2 separate regions of the Homo sapiens genome follow, and region 2 is linked to region 1. Evidence: fine-mapped expression QTL. Tissue or cell type: tibial nerve. Region 1 holds a variant in brackets; the other region holds the start of a gene. All regions are shown on one strand. Distances are between the middles of the regions.

Evidence for each region. PIP is the estimated chance that this variant, and not a neighbour inherited with it, causes the effect.
Region 2: it holds the start of TFAP2A, and the variant in region 1 is fine-mapped to the expression of TFAP2A in tibial nerve (GTEx, PIP above 0.99).

Annotation. Positions count from the first base shown.
Region 1 is chr6:10,267,526-10,275,629 of GRCh38, reverse strand. No RefSeq gene overlaps it. Among named protein-coding and RNA genes, the nearest start is that of TFAP2A-AS2, 130 kb to the left of the region's middle. The variant C/G (reference allele first, on the strand shown) is at 4,479.
Region 2 is chr6:10,410,164-10,418,259 of GRCh38, reverse strand. TFAP2A (transcription factor AP-2 alpha) reads left to right here and starts at 3,186. Exons shown (of 7, transcript NM_001372066.1): 1 at 3,186-3,319; 2 at 7,925-8,096. The coding sequence starts at 3,269. TFAP2A-AS1 (TFAP2A antisense RNA 1) reads right to left here and starts at 5,942. Exons shown (of 3, transcript NR_033910.1): 1 at 5,893-5,942; 2 at 3,209-3,579; 3 at 2,091-2,973. RefSeq lists enhancers at 671-1,328, 1,329-1,986, 2,645-3,304, 3,305-3,962 and a silencer at 5,343-5,702.

The DNA of each region.
Region 1 (8,104 bases):
TAGACTACTGAAATTTAATGTAATTATTGATATGTTAGGGCTTAAGTCTGCTGGGTTTTTTGTTTGTTTGTTTTTGGTTTGTTCTATTTTTTATTTTTCTGTTTCCTTTTCCCTGCCCTCCTCTGCATTACTTGAACATTTTTTAGAATTCCATTTGGATTTACCTATAATATTTTGAATGTATCTCTGTGTATATATTTTTAGTGGTTTCTCTCAGTATTGCATTCTATGTGTATAACTTATTGTAGCCTGCTGATGTTATCATTTTACTGGTTTGAGAAAAGTACAAGAAAGTTGCATCTCTTTATATTTCTTTAGCATTCCTCTTTACAATAGAATTGTCTTATATATTTCCTCTACAAACATTTAGTACCATATGAGACAGTGTTATAATTTTTGCCTCAACTGTCAGACATAATTCTGAAGATGCGAGGAAAGCGTATTGTATTTACTCATATTAATACTTACTGTGTTCTTTCTTCCTCACTGTTTGTTGGTTTCCTTTCTGCTTAGAGAACTTCCTCTAGCCATTCTGTTAGGGTAGATCTGCTGGTGAAAAATTATCTTAATTTTTCTTCATCTGTGAATTTCTTGATTTCCCTTTCATTTCTGAGGGACATTTTTGATAGTTATAGAACTCTGATAGACAATTCTTTTCTTTCAGCACTTGTAAAATGTCATGCCACTTTATTCTGGCCTCCATGATTTCTGATAAGAAATATGTTGTCTTTGAATTATTTATCCACCTATAAGTAAGGCACTCTTTCTCTCATGCTGCTTTCAATCATTTTTATTTGTTTTTAGTTTTCTGAAATTTGACTTCGATATGTCTTGGTGTCAATTTCTTTGGGTTTATCCTGTTTGAGAAAGTTGGGAAGTTTTCAGGCATTATTTCATTTTTAACTCTACCCTCTTTCTCCTTATTGTCTGAGACTCTCTTAACACAAAATGTTGTGAGAGTTAACATACATGTTAACTCTTGGTTATAGTCCCACAGATTTCTTAGTCTCTGTTCATTTCCTTTTTCCAGCCAATTTTTTGTTGTTGTTGTTGCTGTTCAGTTTGGGTAACTTCCATTGTTCTATTTCGGTTCTCCAATTCTTTTCTGTATCTCTCTCATTCTGTTATTGAGCCTATGCAATGAGTTTTCTACTTGGGTTATTGTGTTTTTCAGTTCTAAAACTTCCATTTGGGTTTCATTTATATTTTCTATTTGCTTGCTGAGTATTCGCTGAGTATTCTATTTCTTACTGAAATTTCCTACAACTTCATCTGTTCCAAGTGTGTTTATTATTGCTTATTAGAGCATTTTATGATGGCTGCTTTAAAATTGTCATCAGGTAATTCTAACACCTCCATCACCTTGATGTGATCTGTTGGTTGTCTTTTCTTCATTCAATTTGAGACCTTCCTATTTCTTGGTATGATGCATGATTTTCAGTTGAAACCTTGACATTTTTTGGTAGTATGTCATGAGACTCTGGATCTTATTTCAACATTCTGTTTTGAGTGGCTTCTTCTGACACTCTGTGACAATAGGTGTAGGGGTGACTCCTTCTGTCATATAGGGGAAGAAATCTAGAGGGTCCTTGTTAGTGCTGACTGAGACTGGGTGTTTCAGCTCCCCACTAGGCATCCACTGAGAGCTCTGTGGTGGGGAGCATAGCAGTGCCTTGTTACTGTCCCTGTGGCCTCCACTCACATTACGTCCTGATAGAGATGAATGTTCCAGCTCCCTATTTGGCCTTCTCTGAGGCCTACTATCCTTGTAGGTATGTTTGGGCACTTGTTACACCCTTGTGAGAGTGGAAGTCTAGGCTTTCCACCTGGCCTTTGCTGGTGTGGGTGTGGTAGGGCTTCAGGTGTTCTGTAGGGTTTCACTGGAGTAGAATGACTACCATCTGCAAGTTTTTCTGTCTTGTTAGGCTGTTCTTCCTTTCCTGGTTCTTGAGGTTTTTGTTTGTTTGTTTTTCCTGTGCTTGTTGGAATTTCTGGGTTGACTGCTTAGCTCCAAATCTACGATTTAGGAGGCAAAAATAAAACTTATGGAATTCAACACTATATTATTCCTTGTGTCCTTAGGTTTCCAGCTGGTCTGCTTTCTTCTTTTTATCTTTCAGAGCCTTCTTACATTTCTTTTATATGTAATGCCCAGGTTCTGTAGTTGTACTTAGCAAGAAGAATAGAAAAAATTATGTCTACTTCATTTACCTAGAAGTAGAAGTTGTAATTGGCTCCTCCTGTTTTAAGGAAAATGTCAAGTCCTTCAAAATTTTTCATTTTTCACTTCAGTATTTCTTTTCATTAAGTTTGTCTTCATTTTTTCTATTGCCTCAGCAGAAGAAATTCTACTTTAGTTCTCTGAAGTGATAGTCTTCCAGGCCATTACATTTCCTCTTGTTTGCTCTGAAAAACTTGCTCCTCCAATTATCTCTTCCTACTTGTGTCTTCAATCTTTTATTTTATTTTTATTTATTTGTTTTTAAACTTTCCCCCCCCCCATACTGCCTTGTCTAAGAATCTGCAATCTTATTTGATAAATACTCTCCTTCAGTTTGAGGGACACTTGTCTTAAAGAAACTGACCTTTGACCTGTTCTTTCCTAAGACAGTCTCCTATTTTTTTCCTTCTCCTAAAGGCCAGTGTTCTTGAAAGCATCATCTGTATTCTCTCTTCCACTGATTTATCATCCTCTCCACCCTTACTTCCTAGTAGTTGGTTTACTGACCTTACCAGTCTATGGAAATTGCATTTTAAAGGTCACCAATCATTTCCTGGTGATCAAATCCGATGGCTTTTTCTCAGTTCATATATACTTTCATTTCTCTGCAGCATTTGGCACCACAAGCTTTGGAAATTCTCCTCTTTGGATTTCATGGCTCTGAATCACTTTCTTCCCTCCCTGACTTCCTTTCTCCCTCCTACATTTAGCCAGTATTCAAGGTTCTATCTGCACTTTTCTTTTCTCTCTCATTCAATTTCATGGCTTCAACCACATGCTGATTCTGAAACTATACGCAGAGGATCCTAAAGTTTTGTTTTTACATTTAGTTTAGATGTCTTTCTTGGGCTTTAGTTTGACATTTCCAGGTGTTTTCATTTGTCACCAAATATCCAATCATTCTTTAAAAGTAGTACATCTAAAACCAAAACCTTCATCTCATCTCTGCAAAATGCTCTTGTTTTTGTGGTACCAATTTCTGTGAGTAGAATGTGTACCTCCCCGGCCACTAAGCATCGAAACCTTGGTGTGTTGCTTGGCATGGCCTGGCTCTAACTTGTCAGCTTCTGCTAGAAATTCACCAGTTTCTTGACTTTTACTCCTTGTAAAATTGGCTTTACCCAGCTCAGGTAACCTTTAACTTGTGCGTGGACTGTTCCAATAGCTCCCTAATTGGTCTCTCTGTTGTCAGTCTATTTCCAGTCTAATCAGTTTTACACTCCCCTTACTGGCTTCTCTTTCTGAACTTACTTTTCTTTGGCAGGCATTCAAGGCTTCTGTGATCTGCCATCACCTGCCTTTCCAGCATTGTTCCAACATTATTCCCACTGAGAGACACCATGTTTCTGCAAAACTGAAACACCTATTGTTTCTGTCATCCTAACTCTATCTTCTCACTCCAGCACTTAAAATGGAATTATGTCTCCATTCTCCTCTAGCACTTAATGTGTCTCTTTTTAAAATTATTACGATTATTTGCCCATTGAACTTCTGACCCAACTGTGTCTCTTTCTTATAGTACTCATCAATTTAGAAGTTGTATGAGATACATTTATATACTGACTTTACTCCTAGGCTGTCAGCTTGTGGAGGTGTTGATCATTGATTCATTCATTCATTTCACAGATTTCTAAGACATGCTAGGAAGAATAGGGATATGATAGTGAAAAAAAAGCTTCTCATAGCGCTTTCAGCCTTGGAGTCCTTATTTTTTTCATTGTTACTAGTTTGTTTTTACACTGTAAAAAGTGCCTAGTCCTGAATCAACGCCAGGCACACAGTAAGTACTCCTTATTAAATGAATGAATTAATTAGCAAGTATGTAAGATGATAATTACAAAAGTTTCACATGACTTGTTTTTAAATTATCTGGCATTTAAGCCTTTCTCATGAAAGAGAAAATAAACATCGAGCAACAGAGATATAATATTTATTAGAAATAAATGCAAATGCAGAAATATATCATCTGGGTCTTTGGATTAAGGCCACAATACAGCAGACATTTTTAACCAGTTTTACAAATGATAGCAATATTTAAAGAACATCGGTCTCAAGGACGGTTTTTGTAAGAATGAATAAAAACTGTGACTATGGGAACTGTCTGTTCCAAGTAGCTCTACACACTGAATTTGAGGCTTTTTAGCATAATAAGACATTTGTCCTCTTTGTATTTGAGACAGGGGTTTCATTTTACTTCCTACTGAGGTTTCCAGTGTGAATTTTTCATTGCAGCTTGCCCTGTTATAAAGTGTGTCTT[C/G]TATCTTACTGAGGTTTCCTTTCTCAGCTTTTTGGGATGGGCGTCTGAGCTTGAACAAAAGAATTGCTGGGAAAAGGAAACAGCAAACCAGGAAAGTGACTAGCTTCTGTGAATGCCTGCACTTTCTATAGACCGCAGACTGTTGGCACGTTAGCCAGTTCTTAGGGACTCTTGCTTTTCATTGCTCCTATCTTAGCAATGTCGTTACAAAGTTGACTGTAGAAATGTAAAGCTTAGCAGGGCGCGGTGGCTCACGCCTGTAATCCCAGCACTTTGGAAGGCCGAGGCAGGTGGACCACCTGAGGTCGGGAGTTCAAGATCAGTGTGATCAACATGGAGAAACCCCACCTCTACTAAAAATACAAAATTAGCCGGGCGTGGTGGTGCGTGCCTGTAATCCCAGCTACTTGGGAGGCTGAGGCAGGAGAATTGCTTGAACTTGGGAGGTGGAGGTTACGGTGAGCCAAGATTGCACCATTGCACTCCAGCCTGGGCAACAAGAGTAAAACTCCATCTCAAAAAAAAAAAACCAAAAAAAAAAAAAAAAAGAAAAGAAAAAAGAAATGTAAAGCATAGGTAATTGCTTTCTAGCCTTCAAACATCACACTCCAAATGTTTCCTCTGCTCCTTAAAACATATTCATTCCATGATCAATGGCCAATGAGAATAAAACAAATTCATCCTAAAGATTTTATTTGCTTTTCCCTCATATTGTTTCTTAAATTCTTAGATGTTTCATACTTAAAGAAAATTTCCTTATATAACTTTTTTCAAAGACATTCAGAGTTTTCGAGTTGCTAACTAGGTTTCATTCTCATAATGAGTCATTTCTAAAACTGTGCCAAGGACTTTGGGGCCTTAGATGAATTTCTAGTCAGTGGCATCTCAGACTGCATACTCTGACAGGCTTTCATCTGTCTGGGATAGAGACAAGAGATTGGCAAGTTAAAGATTAACTCTCCAGTAGGGGATTGAAGACTGCTTGCTCTATTTTCCCAACTGTTTTACCCACAAATCTCTATGTATTGAGATGAGCTCTAGGGTACCTATAAATCAGGTTAATAGGCAGTACATGCTGGAATAGGTACTTCTCGCTTAATACCAGGCAGCTCTGGTGCCACGTTCTATCTAGACCAGTTATTGGACTTGGGCTTGATATGAGATGGTACAGAAGGATCCTCCACCTTCCTTCCTTCCCTGACTTCCTTAGAGAACTGATGCTTACTGCAAAGACCCGGTGCAGCAAACCACTATGGCACGTGCTTACCTATGTAACAAACCTGCACGTTCTGCACATGTATCCTGGAACTTAAAGTAAAATTAAAACAGACAAACAAACAAACAAACAAACAAAAACTGATGCTTAGTCCTTAAAACTGGTCTTGGTGACATAGAAGACACCTAATTTTCTAAAGTGATAGAAAGAATACTTTTATTTATTTTTATTTATTTTTTGGCAGGAATACTTTTAGAGCATTTTTCCAGTAGTCATTTATCCTGTTATTGAGTATTTTTTTTTTTAATTTTGGCTTCGGATAAAGGACTGAGGAAGACAATTCTCTTTTTCTTTTGGTAGGAAGCACCATTTCGCATGCAAATTGTGTGGATATACATGACAAATTTGGTCCTAATACTAATTTATTTATATTTTAATGTTAGAAAAGGTGAAGGTGGTGCTAGTGAGAAGCTTTAGCTAACACACAAAATGGGGAAGTTAGTTAGTTTTACCACACAGCTGAACAACTTTCACACAAAACCAAAATGGCAGCTGGTTCTGAGGTTTCATGAACACATAAAAGCCCAAATGCCAGAAACCAAAAAATTCTCTTTAAGCAATTTTTTCCCTCTCTATAGGAACTGAGGCTGTCAGCAGCATAAACACTTGCAATCCTGCCCTTCCTAGGATGCATGTGCTATCGAAAAGGGAGGTGTTAATTGCTGTGCTAATTACAACATGATTGCTTTGCACTTGTTTTGCACTTGTAGGTGATTAAATTTTTAACGAAGCATATTACTTGGCACTGTTAGCACAGTTAACACATTTCTCTCTCTCTCTCTCTCTCTTTTTTATGCCTTGGGAGAAGTCCCGCACCGCAGACCCTTCTCTGGCTGTGATGTGCTGTTGTGTTTGGAACAAGCTTCTGTTTAGCCTGTCAGTTACAGGACTCCAGCTTCCTGCTTGGGAAAGAGCAGCAGCCTATTATAATCATCCCCAGCATGATGGCACTGGCCAGATGCGAGCGCAGAACCCACAAAGGTATTAGCTAAAAATTAGGCAGTGCTGCCAATGCCAGTTTCCAGCCTTCATTTAAAAACTACGACGACTCCAGCCAGTCAAGCGGCAGTGTCGAAGGGTTTAGCAGGAAGGTAGAGAGATGACAGCAAGTTCCATGTGATTTATTTCAGCTTTACAGCCTGCATTCCCAGCTGAACCGGAGCACGGGAAACTTGCATCTGTTACATGGGCAGCCTTGTATCTCTTGGTCCCCACTGTGCAGCAGGCTGCTGCTGTCCTCCGTGGAAGCCGGATTTTGTGTTTGTGCGCCTGTGCGTGCACACTTTCTCTCTCTCTTTTCCTCTTTCTTCCTAGGCCTCCTCATTCAGAAGTGTCTGGGAAGACAGGTTTGGTTGTAAGAGAAGAACTGGACATGTCTGAGGGGTTCACAACCTTGGGGTGCGCTGTCAGAGAAATGACAGGTAGCTAAATTCTCTTTAATGCTGCGTATCTGCAAACAAACCTATCTATAAAGCCCGAAAAGTCAAGCGTTCAACTTTTTATGACTTACCTCTCATGACTTGGCAAGTTTTGCAGCAAGGAGACTGGGATGATGGTTTTAGGAGAGCAGAGTGAACAAAGGAAAGAAACTGACCAGTTTGAATTTGAATGAGAAGCACCTGCTGTTGCCATGGGAGTTCTTGTGTGCCCATTGACCCCCACCAGTGGGCTGAGCAAGACAAAGGGGCAAAGCTGATTCTCAAGAGGAGCATAAATTCCTCAAAGGCTGAGTTAAGCTTTAGTTACTGAGCCTCAATGAATGCATCTCCAGAACATTTTATAAACTTTTTCAGCCCTCTTGAGGTTGCCTGAAAAAAAAAAAAGTTGCCTCTATACCACATAGCTTATACGTATCTGTCAGCTCAGCATGGTGAAGAAATGCACAAACCAAGTGGAAAAAGTTAGCTAAAAGGATCTACTGAGGCCAGGAGCAGTGGCTCACGCCTGTAATCCCAGCACTCTGGGAGGCTGAGGCAGGTGGATGACCTGAGGTCATTGAGACCAGCCTGGCCAACATGATGAAACCCCTTCTCTATTAAAAATACAAAAATTAGCTGGGCGTGATGGCACACATCTGTAATCCCAGCTACTTGGGAGGCTGAGGGAGGAGAATCGCTTGAACCCAGGAGGCGGAGGTTGCAGTGAGCTGAGATCGTGCCACTGCACTCCAGCCTGGGCGACAGAGTGAGACTCCATCTCAAAAAAAAGAAAAAAGGATCTACTGAACATATCCAGGACACTGTAGATTGTGACCTTACCAAGAATTCGAAATCAACTTCTGCACTGGTGCTCTCTTGACAACGGTATTATCTCTTATGATTTAAAAGTCCATTCCATTTTTAAATGTCAG
Region 2 (8,096 bases), 140 kb before region 1:
CTTTTGCGTTCTGTACTTTTTTCCCTTGGATTTATTACTTTTATCAAGAGTGAGCTCTTTTATATTCTTCTCCCTAGTTAAGCCTCACTAAATGGTATTTCATCCGCAAGTTTAGACAAACCTCGTGGTTTAAGGATGCAAATCCCATACCAGAGACAAATCCCGGGAATCCACACCTTTCCCTTCCTGACCCTGTGGGCTAAAGGCCCTTCCTAACTCTCTTATTTGGAGGCTGAAGACTGGGGGAGTCCTTTCGGAGCAGTCTTTGGGTTTTCTCCTCAAATTCCAGTGAATTTCGCTGCAGAATTCCTAGGCCGTGAGAAGGTGCCTGTTGAGTAGGTTTGGCCTGGGACTGGGCCTTCTGTGGGTTCGACTAAGGTTTGAAAGCCGCGAGACTGCCGCAGGAGGAGGAAGGAGGGAGCCGCGGGCCTGGCTCTTGCGGGCTCACAGTTAGGCAAGTGGCTGGAGGCCTGGATCTCGGGTGGGGCGAGCGGATTTGGGGCCCGGAGGGGCCGAATCTGATGGGCTGGGCCTGTTGGGCTCCCGGCTCCCACTGGGCATTGACAATCGGAGAAAAGAGAGTCGTTCTGGCCCCTCACTGTCTCTTTCTCTTTGTGACTCTGTCTCTCACACAAATACTCCCTCTTCCCCGCGACGCCCTTTTTATGCCCCCCACGTCAGGCCTGGATCTCCGACCTCCAACCCCAGGCCTGGCGCTGCTGTCCCGGGGTTCTGGCCCCGCCGGAGCATTGACATGCAATGAAGCGACTTAGCGTGGTAATGACGCTGGCATAAATGCAGCTCGGCTGGCTCCAGAGGCGACCCTGGCGCTCGCCCGGGCCTTTCATCAGCGCCTACACCGGGGGCGGCAGTCCAGAGCCGGCAGGTCCCAATCTGCACCTCAATGGCGCCCTCGGCGGGAATACAACAACAGTTTAGCAGCCCCAGCGGGTGCGGAGCCGGAGATCTGTTGGGCGCGGGGCAGCGGGGAGGTGGAAACGGGGGTTGAAATGGGGTGGCAGAGGATGGAGGGCGGCCTTTCCAAGCCCGCAGAGGGCAAGAAAGCGAAACTTGGAGTTCCCTTAAGCACACCGCGGCGACGTCTACGGAGTGTAAAAACCCATGCTCTCAGGCCTAGGGTTTGGCCTGCTCAGGCTATGGCCGCTGCTGGGAGGGTGTCGGTGCTCCTGGCAGCCCAGATCCTGACTTCAAACCACTGCACTGGCGACAGGCTGGGACAGCCCTGCAGGGTCTAGCCCTGGAAAGTCGACCATTTTCTGGACGGAGGGCGGCGCCAAGCCTCCAGCCCGGTTCAGCCGAGGAATTGTGCTCAGTTCAGGTAGGGCAAGGGAGGCCCAGAGCATGGGGAGGGCTTCCTGGGTCTGTAAGGCCCCTTGCCAGCTCCGGCTTCTCCCTAGCTTTTTGGAGCCTTCTGCCTACTCTGCTAGGTTTGGGGAGTTTGCTGAGGTGTTTGGAGGGAGAATTCCCCTTCTGCAGCCTTGGGTGGAATGGGGAGTTCTCCCAGCTCCTGCCTTCCTTCCACCTGTGAGGGAATGCTCCAATCTGCCACAGTTCCCATCCCCTTTTAGGAACGCCCGGTGGAAATATGGGAGGCCTGGAGATTTTCGAGAAACAAGCCCAGATGAATCAAAGGTCCTTACTAGAGCAACTCTGAGGCGGGACCTAGTGTAGTTAAGGAGTTTGTACATATAGCAGAGAGAAAAGACAGAGGTAACTTTCTTTTGGAGGACAAACGAGGAAGCTCAGCCAGGAAAATTAATTACTCTGTATTTCCTAGTGTCACATTAGGTCCTTTTCTTTTTTTTTTTTCTTACTTAAAAAAAAATCCCAAAACCGAAAGGGATAAAAGCCCCAGAGGACCCAGCAGGCCCCGGTGAGGAGTCCAAAAGCCCGGACTGACCAGTCTGGACGAGTAGGTGGCTCCCAGGCCTCCAGGTTCCGCGGCAGCCGGGCTCTGCCTCGCGAGCACGCCCGCGTTAGTAGCATCACCAAATCATGAAGGAACTCTCCCTGCTTTAATTAAAAAGGGGAATCTTGGGAAAACTAGAGCAGATTAACACAGCTAAAAGTCGGTTCCCGGTGATTTATTTTGATGCACGCACGAGACGGTATCTAGACTTGCAGGCACACACACGTCTGTTTTTAGGCTCAACTTCAGAAGCGGGTGTGCAGTTCCATAGGAGTTCTGTATTCGTGTCCACGTTGCACCCAGGAAACCTTAGCCTGAACACCAATTTGAACTGTCAGTTGGCCCTAGCTTCACACAAACAGGAGAAAAATTGTTTAACCCCTGGAGCTGTCAAGTAACCTCTTCAGGGTACAACTTTTATTTTACACGCTGCAATTAAGGGATTGCAAACCCCAGCAGAGCCACCGGAGCCGCTTGGCAGAATCTCCAACCTGGGGGAAAGCTCAAAGCCAATAAAACTCCCAAGGCGCTGCGGCCCGAGGGGGTGGCTGCCTCGAGCGGAGGCGATCCCTTGTTGGGAAAAAATCCTGGAGTGACTTCGCCGGTCTTGGTTTGGTGGTTATGTTTAATTGCGAAAGGGATAATGATTTCTAATAAAATTGCACGGGGCCAAAAGGGCAGCTCGGATCGTGGTAGCAGGGTTAAGGGAGAAGTGCTAGAAGCTGGGCCCCAGGCGTGGCGCTTGGACCTTGAGCAGTGCCGGGCTTTGCAGAAGGCATCTCTGGAGAAAAGGAAGCGGAGAAAGAAAGGAAGGGGAATGTGGCGGAATTGGGGTAAGAGAGGGGGTGTTGGGGCAGGGCCTCGCGGCGGAGCTCGAGGAAGGTTTTATCAGTTCGCAGGCTGGAGTGCGCTCTAGAAGCAAGTTCGCGGCGTAGAGAGGCCTTTATACCTGTGTCGGAGCGGCCGGCGGCAGATTGTGGTACTGGCGAGCAATTGGACTATTGTTGATATGCTAATGAGGCGATTAGGCTGTTGGTAAAGAGCTGGAAAAGGGAAAAGTTTCTACCATTAGAGGGAGATCTCCGAGCGCACACGGGAGCTCTTTCCCTTCTCTCCTCCTCCTCGCCCTTCTCCTCGCCCTCCTCCTCCTCCTCGCCCTCCTCTTCCTCCTCCTCCTCCTTGCCCTCCTCCTCTCCCTCCTCCTTCTCCTCCTCCACCTCCTCTCCCTCCTCCTCCTCCTCCTGCGCTCACCGCCGGCAGCCAGCACTTTGCGCTCACCCAGAGAGTAGCTCCACTTGGGTGCGAGACCGAGAGGGGCATATCCGTTCACGCCGATCCATGAAAATGCTTTGGAAATTGACGGATAATATCAAGTACGAGGACTGCGAGGTAAGCGCGACGCCGGCTCGATCATCCGTGCGGTCACAGGCTCCGAGCTTGACCCTCCCTCTCCTCCTCCTCTCCTTGCAACCAGCTGCGAAACGCGGGTGGGACAAACTTTCCCCAGCGCAGCGCCCGTCCCTCGGATTCGCCCGAAGAACGCGGGGGAGAAGCTGCAGAGAGAGGACGTGGATGCTCCCTTCTTTGGTTTCCCTACTTTGAAGCTCGTGTCCCACTTTACTCCCCTTTCTGACCAATTTTGGCTGTGCCTAAGAATGGGGGAAAAGAAGAACATGGGCTTTTGAAGCAATTGCTGGCAACTGGGCACTTGCCTGTGCACTCCTCGTGTTATCTTCATCGAGATTGAGGGCCCAAGTCACCAGGAACAGAAAGGAAAGAGAAAACTCTTTTCTCTCTTGAACTTCCTCTCCGATCTTTAATATTCCTTCTTCTTTCTATTCATTCATTCATTCATTCATTCATTCTTTCTTCCCCCCACCCCCACTTCTAAAGCGGTTCCCTTCTCGGCTTTAGAGACGGCCCCCCCACACTTCGCTGTGAGCTGGGCTGCATCTTCCTGTAAGCGGGTTCAACTTAAGACCACTGATCCCAGCTGCGGGGCTCGCTCCAGATCCTCTGTGCTTCACGAAGTTCTAAGTAGCTTCTCCCTCTGAGCTACAGGATCGACGCACCCCACGGGGGTGTGTGGGGGTGGGGTGGGGAGATGTGCTGCGCCGAGCCTGCTGGCCGCTGGGTGCGGGAGCACCAGCTTCTGCACCAGCCCAGAACGACCGTGGGAATCCTTGCGCGGCTGCAGACCACCTCTGGTGCCGCAAGCCCGCTGGGCCGACAGAGCGCGCCGCTTTGGAACCCATTTTAAAACGCAGAGTCCCCTGAGCTCGCCTTCTTGAGGCAGCAAGGGAGACCCTAGCGCGACCTGTCCACCCGCAGGAGGCGCTGGGAACGGTTACAACCAACACTGTAATGAGCAATGAGTCCGAGAGAGGGGTTGGGGTGTGTAGGGCTGGAGATTACCTAAATAAATAGGTGGCAGTCCCAACTTTTGCTGTTTTTTTTTTTTTTCTTTTTTGGCATTTGCAGCTGAGAATGTTAGGCAGGAGGTGTGTGTGCAGGCGCAGGGGCGGAGATCTTGACTTCACTCGAAACCAGAAATTGGGTTTATGTGAACGATGTGTCACCCGCTCCCTCCTCCCTTTTCTTTCTGAAGATTATTTTAAATCGTTCTCCTTTCAGGCCCCCCACCCCGGTAGATGGGGACGGGGTGACATCCCACGGGTACTGGCTCTTCCCTGGGGGGGTCCTGTCGCGCTAGAGGAGGGGCGCAGGGACCCCACGTCAGACCAGTCGCTTTGTTTTCGAGGCTGGGGGCGAGCTTTGCGGGCAGGTAGGAATGAAGCCGAACCCCTCAGTCTCATAGGACAATTCATACTGTACTGGTCTGGGCTTTGGCCGGAGGCTTGGGCATTTCACTTTCGCAGAGGCCGAAACCCAGCTCCAGGTGTGGGCGCCCTCGGCGGGCGGGGTCCGAACCTCCGTGCGGCTCTAGGTGCCGACTGGATGGGGTGGGTGGCTAGGTGGGGGATGAACTTGCACCCCTAGAGGGATCCTGTGGGGGCAAGTGTGAATGCGTGTGTAAGCGAGGCAAAAAAAGATGAGAGAGAGAGGAGAATAAAGTCAAAGCTGTTTCCACAACTTTGGCCGTGGTGGGCAAGCGCCGGAGCGGGGATTTCGGGTTTCGGAGCTGGCTTGGGGCAGTCTGATTGTGCCGGGGCTCTGTAGGGACACGCAGGAGGCGAGGTGCCGCTTGTTCTGACAACCTGGCGGGTAGACTGGCAAAGGCAGCACGCCGGGAGAGCTAGTCGTGTCATCTGGGGGGGCGTCAGGCGGGAGTGGCCCAGCCAGTCGGACGGGTTTTTGCCGGGAGCCGCGAGCCGGTGCCAGCGGCGCCCGGGCTGGGCCGCCTAGCGTCTGTGCGCGCCCCGGCCCGCATCCCGGCTCCCGATCCGGAATCCCCGGCCCCAGAGAGCCGAGGGCAGAGCGACGGTGGCCGGGGAGCGCACGGTGCCCCTGTCCGAGGAAAGCTCAAGAGGAGGCCGAGGAGAGGACCAGTGCAGCGAGCGGGCCGGTCCCGGGCAGGGCGCCGGGTCATGGAGGAGCCGCGCAGCAGCGGGCAGCCGAGTCCCGAGTCCCAGACTCGGCTGCGAAGCGGCGGAGCCCGCGGCCAGACAGGGCCGGGAAGCGCCTGCCGCGCCGAGAGCCCCACGAGCGCCCGGACGCGGTCCCAAGCAGCTCCTACCCGCTACGCACGACCCCCGCTGCATCCCGAGGTCTGCCCCAGCCTTTTAGGTCTGATTGTCCTCGCTCGCTTCCTCTCCCCTTCCCCCTCCCCCGCGGCCTCCCCCTCCGTGCGCTCCGGCTGGGCCCCCTCCCCCTCCCTCCCTCCCTTCCTCCCTCCCTCTTTCCCTCCCTTCCTCCTCTCGGGCTCTCCCTCCTTCCCTCCCTCCCCTCTCCCCACCCGGGGCTCCTCTCCCTCGCCCACACTTTCTTTCTCACACACGCACGCAGACACATTCTCCCTCTCTGCGCTCTCTCCTTCGGTCTCCCTCTCTGCCTCTTTCTCTTTCACTTTTGCATGCCCTGCAACCTTTTAAAATGTTGCCCCTTCCCTGTGATTCGCCAGACGCCGCGCCGCGGCCCCCCGCGCGCTCGCCCGCTCCCTCTCTCGCTCGCTTTTTGTCTCTCGCGCTCCCTCTCCCCACTCCGATTTGCTACACTGAGACTCCCGTCAATGGACTGCATTGAGAGCCGGCTCCGGCGCGAGTTGCCTCTCCGCTTCACGCTCGATTTCCAGGCATTCTTCCCTTATTAAGTATTCGTGTAATATTAATAGTCATGAATATCTGCTATTAGGAGGCTCCAGGAACGCTGCCCAGCGCGGTTATTAGAAGCTCAAGCGAAGCCGCCGCTAAGAAAAGAGGGGGAGACACGGATTAAGGAACACGCACGCACCCACACACTCACACATACTTTTTCCTTTTTCCTTTTTTGGGGTTTTTCATTTTTAAAGAACTTTGAATCATAACCAGTCGCGGCAGGATAGAGACCGTGGGTTCGACCAGCTGAAGGCGCCGCGCGAATCGGTGGTTCAAGTTCGGATGGATCCGAGCCGGGCTCCCGCGCTCCGGGGAGCGTCGGCGCCGTGACTGGAGTCCTGGGTGGCGCGGGGCTCTCGGCGCCTTTTGTGTGGGGCGCGCTCGGGCGGCGGGGCAGCCGGGCGCTCCAGGCTTGCTTGTTTTTTTCCACCCTGACTCGTTACCCCAGACTCTTCGCAGATGTTAGTTCACAGTTTTTCAGCCATGGTGAGTCCCATCCCCACCCCCGTTGCTGTTTCTTTAGGAATTGGATTCTGGAAACCTGGTGCCGTGGAGCTGCCCGAAACCTCGGGTTTCACGCCCAGCTTTCCTTCAGGACACCCTCTCCATTTGCATCCCCCACCCCACCTTCCGCCTTTCTCTCGCTCTTTTCCATCCCTAAATCGAGTGCATTACCCCCTACCCCAGCCCCCGCTCGACCTCTCCGAGCACGCAGACCTACCTCGCCGCGGCTTCCCAAGGCGTGTTTCTCCCCACGTTCATCTTGATTTCCTTGAGTCTTCACTTGTCCCCGAGATGTTCTCAACATTTGATGCTTAAACTGTCTGCAGGAAAAGTGCAGCGCGGTGTGCCCCCTACCCTCGGGACCTGCGGCCGAACCGCCGAGGGTTCGCGGTCTCTGGAATCAACTCTCTTCGCTTGTTTTGCAAGGGAATTGCAATAGAGAAACCTAAAGTCAGGCGTTTCTTCTGCCCTTTGGGGCTGGGGTGGAAGGGGCGGGGGGGGGGGGCCACAGCCCCGGGGTGCACCTCTCTCTTTTAAACCCAATAAGGCTGAATCTTTCTATTTTAAACCTTGACTTGACGTCCCCCTTTCCCTATCCAAACCATAAATCGACTCTGTCGAGAAAAAGGCTCCTAACAGAGGAAGCGAAAAAGACAGACCCCGATCCTGCAGTTAAAACCTTCTTTAAGCTGGTAATTTAAACGTGTGTTTTTGTTACAGCCCCTCTGCGAAATATGTTTCTATTTAAGTAGTCATGAAACGGTAACAGTCTTTGAACGTTTATGATTTTTTTCTCTCCAAATAAATGGAAGAGAATAAACAATAACGCAGTGGCAGACAGGTTCAAATCGGGGGAAAAGAAAAGGCCGCTTCTGCTGTTTAGTATTTAGGAGGAATTTTAATTTTGCTTAAGAGAGATTTCACGCTGCAGTTTAATGGGCTGTGTTCCAGGAGACCCTTTTCTATCTTTTCCTCTCTTTGAAAGAAACCCCTAAATAGTCTCTTGTGCCCCCTCCATATACAGTTTCTCTGCGTTGTTCGGTCTGTTTCACTTGAGGGTATTTCCTGAAAAGAACTTAGAGCTGATTTTTTCCCGGCGGCCAGCCAACGGGAACGGGCGATTTCCCACGCAGACTTGTCAAGTGGATTTTGTGTGGATAGTTGTAGCTCGACGCCTGATTCCTTGTTCTTTACCTTTCCTCTCGCTCTCTTCTAGGACCGTCACGACGGCACCAGCAACGGGACGGCACGGTTGCCCCAGCTGGGCACTGTAGGTCAATCTCCCTACACGAGCGCCCCGCCGCTGTCCCACACCCCCAATGCCGACTTCCAGCCCCCATACTTCCCCCCACCCTACCAGCCTATCTACCCCCAGTCGCAAGATCCTT